2 separate regions of the Homo sapiens genome follow, and region 1 is linked to region 2. The links come from fine-mapping of genetic effects on gene expression. A gene starts in region 2. The other region holds a variant in brackets. All regions are shown on one strand. Distances are between the middles of the regions.

The links. PIP is the estimated chance that this variant, and not a neighbour inherited with it, causes the effect.
Region 1: its variant is fine-mapped to the expression of NPLOC4 in whole blood (INTERVAL, PIP 0.98).

Annotation. Positions count from the first base shown.
Region 1 is chr17:81,557,693-81,563,061 of GRCh38, forward strand. NPLOC4 (NPL4 homolog, ubiquitin recognition factor) reads right to left here. Exons shown (of 17, transcript NM_017921.4): 17 at 1-1,724. The coding sequence ends at 1,567. Among named protein-coding and RNA genes, the nearest start is that of FAAP100, 8.0 kb to the left of the region's middle. RefSeq lists enhancers at 1,019-1,520, 1,521-2,020, 3,297-3,396. The variant A/T (reference allele first, on the strand shown) is at 3,235.
Region 2 is chr17:81,634,046-81,639,414 of GRCh38, forward strand. NPLOC4 (NPL4 homolog, ubiquitin recognition factor) reads right to left here and starts at 3,067. Exons shown (of 17, transcript NM_017921.4): 1 at 2,871-3,067. The coding sequence starts at 2,885. It overlaps TSPAN10 (tetraspanin 10), which reads left to right and starts at 3,151. Exons shown (of 4, transcript NM_001290212.2): 1 at 3,151-3,361. RefSeq lists a silencer at 2,797-3,006.

The sequences.
Region 1 (5,369 bases), 76 kb before region 2:
CAAGCTGGGAGTTGCATCCGCAGCAGTCCGCTTCAACCCAGCTCCTCTCCACCCTTCCTGACCCTCCACAATAGCTCTGCCGTGACCAGACCCAACCCAACTGGCCCCTGGTCCCAAGAGCAGATGAGCTGCTTGGGCCTTCCACTTGGTGTCCCATGCCAGGCGGACCTGGAGGTGTCAGCCATGGCCCTGACCACTTCAGAAGCCAACAGGCAAATGTTCTCTGTTCATAGTGCCAAGAATGTGGGTCACGTGGGCTTACCCCCCAGGATGGACACAGAAGTCCCTAAGCAGTCTGCAGCTGGGCCAGCCTCTCCCGTGGGTGCAGAGCAGCCCAGATGTGGCCATCATTAAGGCAAAGAAGCATCGAGATGCCCACCACTCCCCGGGTAAGAGCCATGCCCCGGCCTGGCCACGCCACAGAGGAACGCAGAGCACACAAGCAGGACCCCACCACGTGCTGTTCCAGATCGCCCAGTCTCCCTCTATTGGTACACTATCAATTGTGCAGTGCCCCAGGGAGGTCCCAAATGGCCCTCACAAGAGGCACAGCCCCTAACGCCCTCAGCCAGGCGGTGCAGTGGGACGAAGCAGCGTATTGGGGAGGGCCAGAGCATCGGCACCGGTGACCCAGCTCTCCCACCCAGGCCATCGCAGGGCAGCCTCAGGGCAGGCGCCACCACTGCTCCTGCTCAGCCCGCAGTATCTGCAGTTGCTGCAGCTGTGTGGCTTGGTAGAAAAGTCTCAGGCACTGAGGTTTACTTCAAGGGAGAACTGACTGGTGCCCCCGTCCACACTCATCACCCTGGACACAACCTCGGGGGCTTCACTAAAGGAGGGAAGGATGTGGAAACTAGTCTCTCTCACTCCCCTTTTGTGCAGTTTTTATCTTAAAAAAAAATAAATAAAAGTCTTCTGGGCAGGAATTACTGATAACTGTTATTATAACCAATGCAGACTTTAAAATCCCACCTGGACATCGGGTGAGAGGAGGAGGGCAGGCAGCAAACCGACCTGCAGACCTGCAGAGGGGAGCCGTGTCCAGGGCCACTGCGTCCCCACCAGACAACAGCTACTAGAAGAGGAAAGTGGCCCTCACAGGCAGGGTGCCTGCCACCAAGCAGTCAGACAAGGGGGTAACCAAGAGCTCCCAGCCAGAAAAACATGGGGGCAGGGAGGCCAAACAAAAAGCACTGAAAATAAAGAGAAGGCTGGGTGGTGGCAGCATCGGCCCCTCCCTGTGCGCCCCAATTCCAGGTGCCACGTAGAGGCGAGAGGTCTTTCCAACACGGCGGGGGACTTGTCAACAGGATTAGGCGTGAGGAGCCGCTCTGCGTTTCCAGTCTGGAGACTGCATTCAGCCTGCAGAATACCAGCCGTGGCGCCCGCTCTCCAGGGAGGAACGTGCTGAGAAGCTTCAGTGGGTCAGGGAGCCCAGGACAGCCAGCCCCTTGTTCCTCCAGGGCTGCCCACTATGGGGCAGTTACAGGGAACACACTCAGCAACGCTTCTGGCTTCAGGAAGGGCTGGGCTGGGCCCGGTCCTAGCCAGCAGAGGGCAGGCGCCCTAGGTCCTGGGGAGGCTGCACATCTCGCAGTGGCCTGTGCCTGGCTGGTTCATGAACGTGCAGTGCTGACAGGCCCACATGGCTGCAGTGGCCGTGTGTGTGGAGCCCCCGACGGCGCCGTACTCATGGAGACCTGGGAGCTGCCCGCCAACTGTGCCTGCAGGGTGGAAGAGAAATGAGCACTCATCATTTCTGGCCCACCAGAGACTGCCAGAGTGTGGGCATGGGGGCAGGGGCAGGCAGCTGAGAGCTCCCCGCCCCCAACATCCCACCCAGTGCTGGTCCTGCCCACACAGCACTCCCACCACAGGCACACTTTGAAGTGCTTAATGCCCTCAGAAAAATGCCTCCTGCACCACAGGGAGTAACAGGGAGCCTGTGCTTGCTGGTTCCTTTTTGTTGCAGAGGGTGCTTCTCCTTGTGAATAACGTAACTCCCCGGGGGATGTGCATTTGGGTTGTTTCCAGCTTTTTTTTTTTTTTTTTTTTTCTGAGGTAGGGTCTTGCTCTGTCACCCAGGCTGGAGTGCAGTGGCACGATCTCGGCTCACTGCAACCTCCACCTCCCGGGTTCAAGCGGTTTTCCTGCCTCAGCCTCCCAAGTAGCTGGGATTACAGGCATGAACCACAATGCCTGGCTAATTTTATCTATTTTTTGGTAGAACTAGGGTTTCACCATGTTGGCCAGGCTGGTCTCGAACTCCTGACCTCAGGTGATCCACCCACCTTGGCCTCCCAAAGTGCTGGGATTATAGGTATGAGCCACCATGCCCAGCCTCCAGTTTTGAGCTAATATGAACAAAGTTGCCAGGATCATTCTTCTACAATTTCTTTGTGGACCTGTGTTTTTATTTCTCTTGGATAAAAACAAAGAGTGAGGCTGGGTGCAGTGGGTCACGCCTGTAATCCCAGCACTTTGGGAGGCCGAGGCGGGTGGATCACTTGAAGTCAGGAGTTTGAGACCAGCCTGGCCAACATGGCGAAACCCGGTCTCTACTAAAAATAATTAGCCAGGCGTGGTGGTAGACACCTGCCGTTCCGGCTACTCAGGAGGCTGAGGAAGGAGAATCCCATGAACCCGGGAGGGGAAGCCTGCAGTGAGCCGAGACCCTGCCTCTTCACTCCAGCCTGGGCGACACAGCGAGACTCCATCTCAAAAACAAACAACAGGCCGGGCGCGGTGGCTCATGCCTGTAATCCCAGCACTTTGGGAGGCTGAGGTGGGCAGATCACAAATTCAAGAGATGGAGACCATCCTGGCTAACATGGTGAAACCCCGTCTCTACTAAAAATGCAAAAATTACCTGGGGGTGGTGGTGCGCACCTGTAATCCCAGCTACTAGGAAGGCTGAGGAAGGAGAATGGCGTGAACCTGGGAGGCGGAGGTTGCAGTGAACCGAGGTTGCAGTAAGCCGAGATCTCAAAACAAACAAACAAACAAACAACAACAACAAAAAACCTACCTAGGAATGAATCTGCCGGCCCACAGGGTAATGAATTGTGTGCTGAACTTTCTAAGACCCTGAGACACAGTTCTCGCGAGGGTGGCACGGTTTTGCCTCCCACTCGCAAGGTACGAGAGTCCCAGCTGCTTCACATCTTCACTCACACTTGACATTGTCGCGTTTTTTTCATTTCAGCCACACTGATGAATGTGTAACGGCTTCTC[A/T]TGTTTTAATTTGCATTTCCCTGATGACTAATGATAGTGACTGTTCCTGCATCTCCTTTTTTTTGTTGTTGCCGAGGCTGGAGTGCAATGGCGCAATCTCGGCTCGCTGCAACCTCTGCCTCCTGGGTTCAAGCGATTCTCCTACCTCAGCCTCCCAAGTAGCTAGGATTACAGGCACGTGCCACCACACCTGGCTAATTTTTTTTATTTTTAGTAGAGATGGGTTTTCACCATGTTGGCCTGGCTGTCTCGAACTCCTGACCTCAAATGATCCACCGCCTCGGCCTCCCAAAGTGCTGGGATTACAGGCGTGAGCTACCATGCCCGACCTGCATTTCCTTTTGTGAAACGTTTCACCCTCCGCCCAGCTTCTTCTTCTGCTTTCTGTTTGATTAACAACAGGCAGAGTTATTTTTAAGTTTCAGATAGAAGTCATGTTGTGTGTATGTACTGCTAATACTGCGTCCCCCATTGGTGCCTTTTCATGTTTCTAACAGTGCCCTGTGATGAGCACAAGTGTTTTGTTTAGATAAATTTATTTATCAATTTACCTATTTTTATGCCAGTGTTTTTCTGTGTTCTACCCCAAGGTCCTGCATCCTGCCTAAAAGAATCTTTGCGTACCCCAAGGCCCTGAAGAGATTCAACTTAATAACTGTTTTACAGTTTTTATTTTTTTAAGACAGGGTATTGCTCTGTCATTCAGGCTGGAGTGGTATAATCATGGCTCACTGTGACCTCGACCTCCTGACTCATGGGATCCTCCCATTTCAGCCTCCCCAGAAGCTGGGATTATAGGCGTGGACCACTCACCATGCCCAGCTAATTCTTTTTTTTTTAATATTGTTTTTTTGTACAGACGGGGCTTCACTATGCTGTGTGGGCTGGTCTCACACTTCTGGGCTACAGTGTCCTCCAGCTTTGGCCTCCTAGAGTGTTAGGATTATAGCTATGAGACATCATGCCCAGCCTGCTTCATAGTTTTACCTTTTACCATTAGGCCTATGACCCATCCTGAGCTGATCTTTGTGTCTTGTGTATACACGTCTGTAATCCCAGCACTTTGGGAGACCGAGGCAGGTGGATCACCTGAGGTCAGGAGTTCCAGACCAGCCTGACCAACATGGTGAAACCCCATCTCTACTAAAAATATAAAAATTAGCCAGGCGTGGGTGCACGCCTGTAGTCCCAGCTACTCGGGAGGCTGAGGCAGGAGTATCACTTGAACCCAGGACGTGGAGGTTGCAGTAAGTGGAGATCATGAGATTGCACTGCAGCCTGGGTGACAGGGTGAGATTCCGTCTCAAAACAAAACAAAACAACCCATGAGGGCCGGGCGCGGTGGCTCACACCTATAATCCCAGCACTTTGGGAAGCCGAGGTGGGTGGATCACTTGAGGTCAGGAGTTTGAGACCAGCCTGGCCAACATGGAGAAACCCTGTCTCTACTAAAACTAAAAAAATTAGCTGGGTGTGGTGGCAGCCACCTGTAATTCCAGCTACTTAGGAGGCAGAGGCTGGACAATGGCTTGAACCCGGGAGGTGGAGGCTGCAGTGAGCTGAGATCACACTACTGCACTCCAGCCTGGGCAACAGAACAAGACTTTGTCTCAAAACAAACAAACAAAAAACCCATGAAAAAATGCCCAACATCACTAATCATCAGAGATGCAAATTAAAACCACAGTGAGATACCAGTCAGAACTTACACCAGTCAGAACTGCCTATTATTAAAGAGTTGGCTGGACATGGTGGCTTACCACTGCAATCTCAGCACTGAGGCGGGAGGATCGCTTGGGCCCAAGAGTTCAAGACCAGCCTGGGCAACATAGTGAGACCTCATCTCTACAACAAATTTAAAAAATCAGCCAGGGATGGTGGCACATGCTTGTAGTCCCAGCTGCTCAGGAGGCTGAGGCGGGAGGATTGTTTGAGCCTGGGGAGGTCAAGGTGAGACTGACCTCAAATGCCACTGCACTTCAGCCTGGGTGACAGAGTGAGAACCTGTCTCAAAAAAAAAAGGAGGGGGGAAAAAAAAAAGGTCAGGTGCAGTGGCTCACAGCTGTAATCTCAGCACTTTGGGAACCAAGGCAGGAAGATCACTTGAGCCTAGGAGTTTGAGACCAGCCTGGGCA
Region 2 (5,369 bases):
TTTTTTAGTAGACGTGGGGTTTCACCGTGTTGCCCAGGCTGGTCTCAAACTCCTGAGCTCAGGCAATCCACCTGCCTCGGCCTTCCAAAGTGCTAGGATTACAAACGTGAGCCACCACGCCCTAATTTTTGTATTTTTAGTAAAGACGTGGTTTCACCATGTCGGCCAGGCTGGTCTCAACTCCTGACCTCATTATTCACCTGCCTCGGCCTCTCAAAGTGCTGGGATTACAGGTGTGAGCCACCATGCCCAGCCCAGAAACTTTTCAAAAGATCTCTTTCTTAAATTCAAAATAACTTTTTAAATCAATTTCAAAAGAAGAGTGTTTTAATTCCTCACAATCTGAGACATTCAACGAGATCCAATGCTGTCAATGAGAGCCTAGCCTTATACACTAGTGGGAAAAAAAAAATGGCCTTGTCTGAAACACTTTTCACTTGTCAATGGTTATTTTAACTCAGTTAAAAGTACAAAGGTAGTTTGAAAGAAGGTTTCAGTGCTAATTCCTAACCTATTTCTAGGCAAAGTCACCAATGATTAACACTTTTTTTTTTTTTTTTGAGACAGTCTTGCTCTGTCGCCCAGGCTGGAGTGCAGTGGCGCAATCTGGGCTCACTGCAACCTCCACCTCCCGGGTTTGAGCGATTCCCCTCCCTCAACCTCCAGAGTAGCTGGGATAACAGGTGCATGCCACCACACCCGGCTAATTTTTTATTTTTAGTAGAGACAGGGTTTCACCATGTTGGTCAGGCCAGTCTTGAACTCCTGACCTCGTGATCCGCCCACCTCGGCCTCCCAAAGTGCTGGGATTACAGGCGTGAGCCACTGCATGGCCACATTTTATTTTTCAAAGGAGTCAAAGGTTTCTTGGCCGGGCATGGTAGCTCAGGACTGTAATCCTAGCAATTTTGGGACCCCAAGGTAGGAGGATCCCTCGAGCTCAGAGACCAGCCTGTACAACATAGTAGAGACCTCATCTCTATAAAAAAATGTTTTTAATTAAAAAGATTTAAAGGCCAGGCGCGGTGGCTTATGCCTGTAATCCCAGCATTTTGGTATGCCAAGGCGGGCGGATCACGAGGTCAGAAGTTCGAGATCAACCTGGCCAACACGGTGAAACCCCATCACCACTAAAAATAAAAAAGACATCAGCCATGCGTGTTGGCGAGCACCTGCAACCCCAGCTACTCGGCTGAGGCAGGAGAATTTCTTGAACCCGAGAGGCGGAGGTTGCAGTAAGCAGAGATCGCACCACTGAACTCCAGCCTGGGCGACAGAGTGAGACTCCATCTCAAAAAAATAAAATAAGGTTAAAAAAAAAAAAAAAAAAGGAGTCGACGTTTCCTAAGTTTCTCCTGGGCCATATATTCATTCCACTCATCTCCAGGTTGGGAAACATGGAGGCACCAAGAGGGCCCCTGACTGGAGAGATGATGGAACCACCAGAGAACAGCCTTGCAAATAAGTGCTAGGTTCTCCTGGAGACCCATTTGTTTGTGTGTGTGAGACAGTCTCATTCTGTCGCCCAGGGTGGAGTCCAGTGACGCCACCTAGGCTCACTATGTTGTCCAGGCTGGTCTTGAACTCCTGACCTCAGGTGATCCACCCACCTGGGCTTCCCAAAGTGCTGGGATTACAGGTGTGAGTCACCGCGCCGGGCCTGGAGACCTATTCTAGACAACACCTGGCAAAACTGCAGAGACTGTCACAATGCTACAGTATGAACATTACTCTTCACCCAATACTGCTAAGCTTCCCCCAGAAATCCCAAATCTTCCTTAATATTAACCAAAATGCTCCTGTCCAATGGTCAGTTAGTTTTTTTCCCATCACATTTACTTTTGGGAAGAAACTTCTCACAACTTAACGAGGGACTGGTTTTCTGATTTGTCACTGATATTTTTTACGTTAAGGAGGAGTGTGTGACAATTTTTTTTTTTTTTTTGAGACGCAGTCTCGCTCTATAGCCCAGGCTGGAGTGCCATGGAGGGATCTCAGCTCACTGTAACCTCCACCTCCCGCGTTCAAGCAATTCTCCTGCCTCAGCCTCCCAAGTATCTGGGATTACAGTGCGCCATGACGCCCGGCTAATTTTTTGTATTTTTAGTAGAGACAAGATTTTGCCATGTTGGCCAGGATGGTCTCGAACTCCTGACCCCAGGTGATCCACCCGCCTCGGCCTCCCAAAGTGCTGACATCACAGGCGTGAGCCACTGCGCCGGGCCGACAATTTCAATTTCAGGTAAAAAGTGAAATCAACATCATTTACAACATTCCTTTTAAAGAGGAATTGTCAAGTTGTCCTTCCAAGTAAGGAGCAAAGCCGGCAAGTTACTGTGTTTTCATTTTCCCAGGTCTTCTGGTGGGGAGGGAGCTCTGTAACGTCCCCGTCTGCAGAGCTGCTCTCCTTAGTGACTCATGACAAGGCACTTGCTGGGAAGCGGGAGAGCAGGAGGAGAGAATCAGAGGGAGATTAGGATAAGAGGTGTCCCTGGCTCTGAGAGGGGCAGGACTGGCTGGGAGTCCCTGGAATTAGACCAGGAAGTCTCCTGGAGCCGGGAAACGGGTGGGGAAGGAGGGCGGTTTCTCTTCGCCACAGTCCATTCTCCCTGCTTAGAAAGGCTCGGCCTTTCCCTGCCCAGGGCGGGGAACCGGGGTCGTAAGTCCCCTGGGGAGGGACACGGACGGGAAGCAGCCGAGGGGGGTGAAAGTCCCCGAGAGGGGCCCAGCCACTACAGAGAAAGCCCTGGCGAGAGAAGAGAAAGGGGCCGAGTCGCGGCGCCGGCAGGCCCGCCTCCCCCACAGGCCGAGGCCGGCAAATCTGCTGCCTCATCCCGGCGTCCCCGCTCCCGCCCGGCCGCCGCACTCACGATGCTCTCGGCCATGGCGGCTGCTCCTGCCTCCGGGCTCGAGCCCCGGGCCGCCGCCGCCTGCCGCCCCAAGGGCCTCGCAGACCCGGCCGCGGCCTCAGCCCCGGCCCCGGCCTCCCTACGCCGCCGCCACCGCCGCTCCAGCTTCGCCCGCCCGGCTCCGCCAGCCGCCGACGTCCCGGTGCCTCGCTCAATACGCTCCCCTCGGGCGCGAGGCCGGGAAACCAGGTTCCGGCCCCACCAACGGCTCGACGCATGCGCAGGGCGGCGCCGCTGACCCGCCCCCGCCATCCCTGCAACTGGAGGAGGGGATTTTGGAAAGTTGCGTCTGAGATTACTTCTGCTCGTCCTCGGAAACCCAAGCGGCACAGGAAAGTCCAAAAAGGAAGCAAAGACGAGCATCCGAAGTCTCACCCAAAAATAACTACTGCTGCGTATTATAGCGTATTATAATTGGGGAAACAGCATTCCAAACTTCTCTCCATGCACAGGTAAGTAGAGAAACAATTTCAGGAAGGCAGGATCACACCTTCATGTTTTTTTTTTTAAGTATTTTTTAAATTTAACATAAGAAAAACAAACGAGTTTAAACTGCATTTCAGGCCGGGCGCGGTGGCTCATACCTGTAATCCCAGCATTTTGGGAAGCCAAGGTGGACGGATCACCTGAGGTCAAAAGTTCGAGACCAGCCTGGCCAAAATGGTGAAACCCCGTCTCTACTCAAAATACAAAATTAGGCCATACGCGGTGGCTCACGCCTGTAATCCCAGCACTTTGGGAGGCCGAGGCAGGTGGATCACCTGAGGTCAGGAGTTCAAGACCAGCCTGACCAACGTGGTGAAACCCCGTCTCTACTAAAAATACAAAAATTAACTGGGCGTGGTGGCGGGCACCTGTAATCCCAGCTACTCGGGAGTCTGAGGCCGGAGAATCTCTTGAAGCGAAGAGGCGGAGGTTAGAATGAACTGAGTTGGTGCCACTGCACTCCAGTCTGGGCGACAGAGTGAGACTTCATCTCAAAAAAAAAAAAAAAAGACGTCACTTCACAGATTCTAAGGATTTTTGGAGTTGGATACCAGGAAACCGGAAGACTAAATGTATACATATTTCACAACATCACAATTACTGTGACAGTTTTTTTAAACTATGTTAAATTACATTAATTGATTAAATTATGTTAGTAATTGTATTAGTTTGCTCAGGGTGCCACTGTAACTACCCAACATATTGTCCCTGCCCACTGCCTAGACTTTATCAAGACAGGGGAATTGCAATAAAGAGTTTAATTCACACAGAGCCAGCTTGTACAGGTTACTGAGGTTTTATTACTACTCAAAAAAAATTAGTGTCCTTGAGAATTCAGGGATCAGAGTTTTTTGTTTTTTGTTTTTTTTTGTTTTTGAGTCCGAATCTCACTCTGTCACCCACACTGGAGTGCAGTGGCGCGATCTCGGCTCACTGCAACCTTCACCTCCTGGGTTCCAGTGATTCTCCTGCCTCAGCCTCCCGGGTAGCTGGGACTACAGGCGCACACTACCATGCCTGGCTAATTTTGTATTTTTCGTAGAGACGGAGTTTCTCCATGTTGGTCAGGCTGGTCTTGAACTCCTGACCTCAGGTGATCCGCCCACCTGGGCCTCCCCAAAGTGCTGGGACTATAGACGTGAGCCACCGTGCCCGGCTGGGGATCCGCGGTTTTAAGGATAATTTGGTGGGTATGGGGTCAGAAAGTAGGGAGTGTTGATTGGTTGGGTCAGAGGTGAAATGATAGGGAGTCAAAACTGTCCTCTTGTGCTGAGTCGGTTCCTGGGTGGGGGCCACAAGATATGAGCCAGTTTATCAATCTGGGTGGTGCCAGCTGATCCATGGAGTGCAGAGTCTGCAAAATATCTCAAGCGCTGATCTGTTTTTTAATAGTGATGTTATCCTGAGAAGCAATTTGGGAGGTTTAGAATCTTGTAGCCTCCAGCTACATGACTCCTAAACCATAATTTCTAATCTTATGGCTAATTTGTTAGTCCTGAAAAGGCAGTCTTGTCCCCAGGTAGGAAGGGAGTTTGTTTTGCAAAGGGCTGTTACCATCTTTGTTTCAAAGCTAAACTATAAACTAAGCGCCTCCCGAAGTTATTTCAGCCTACACCCAGGAATGAACAAGGACAGCTTGGAGGTTAGAAGCAAGATGGGTTCAGTTAAGTCCGATCTCTTTAACTGTAATAATTATCTCAGTTATAAGAAAATATAACATAACAAAATCTCTCACAGACTGGGTGGTGGTTTGGAATTACTTTTCTTTTTTTTTTTTTTTTTTTTTGAGTCGGATCTCCCTCTGTCGCCCAGGTTGGAGTGCAATGGCGCGATCCCAGCTCACTGCAACCTCCGCCTCGTGGGTTCAAGCGATTCTCCTGCCTCAGCCTCCTGAGTAGCTGAGATTACAAGCGTGCGCTACCACGCCCGGCTAATTTTTATATCTTTAGTAGAGACAGGGTTTCACCATGTTGG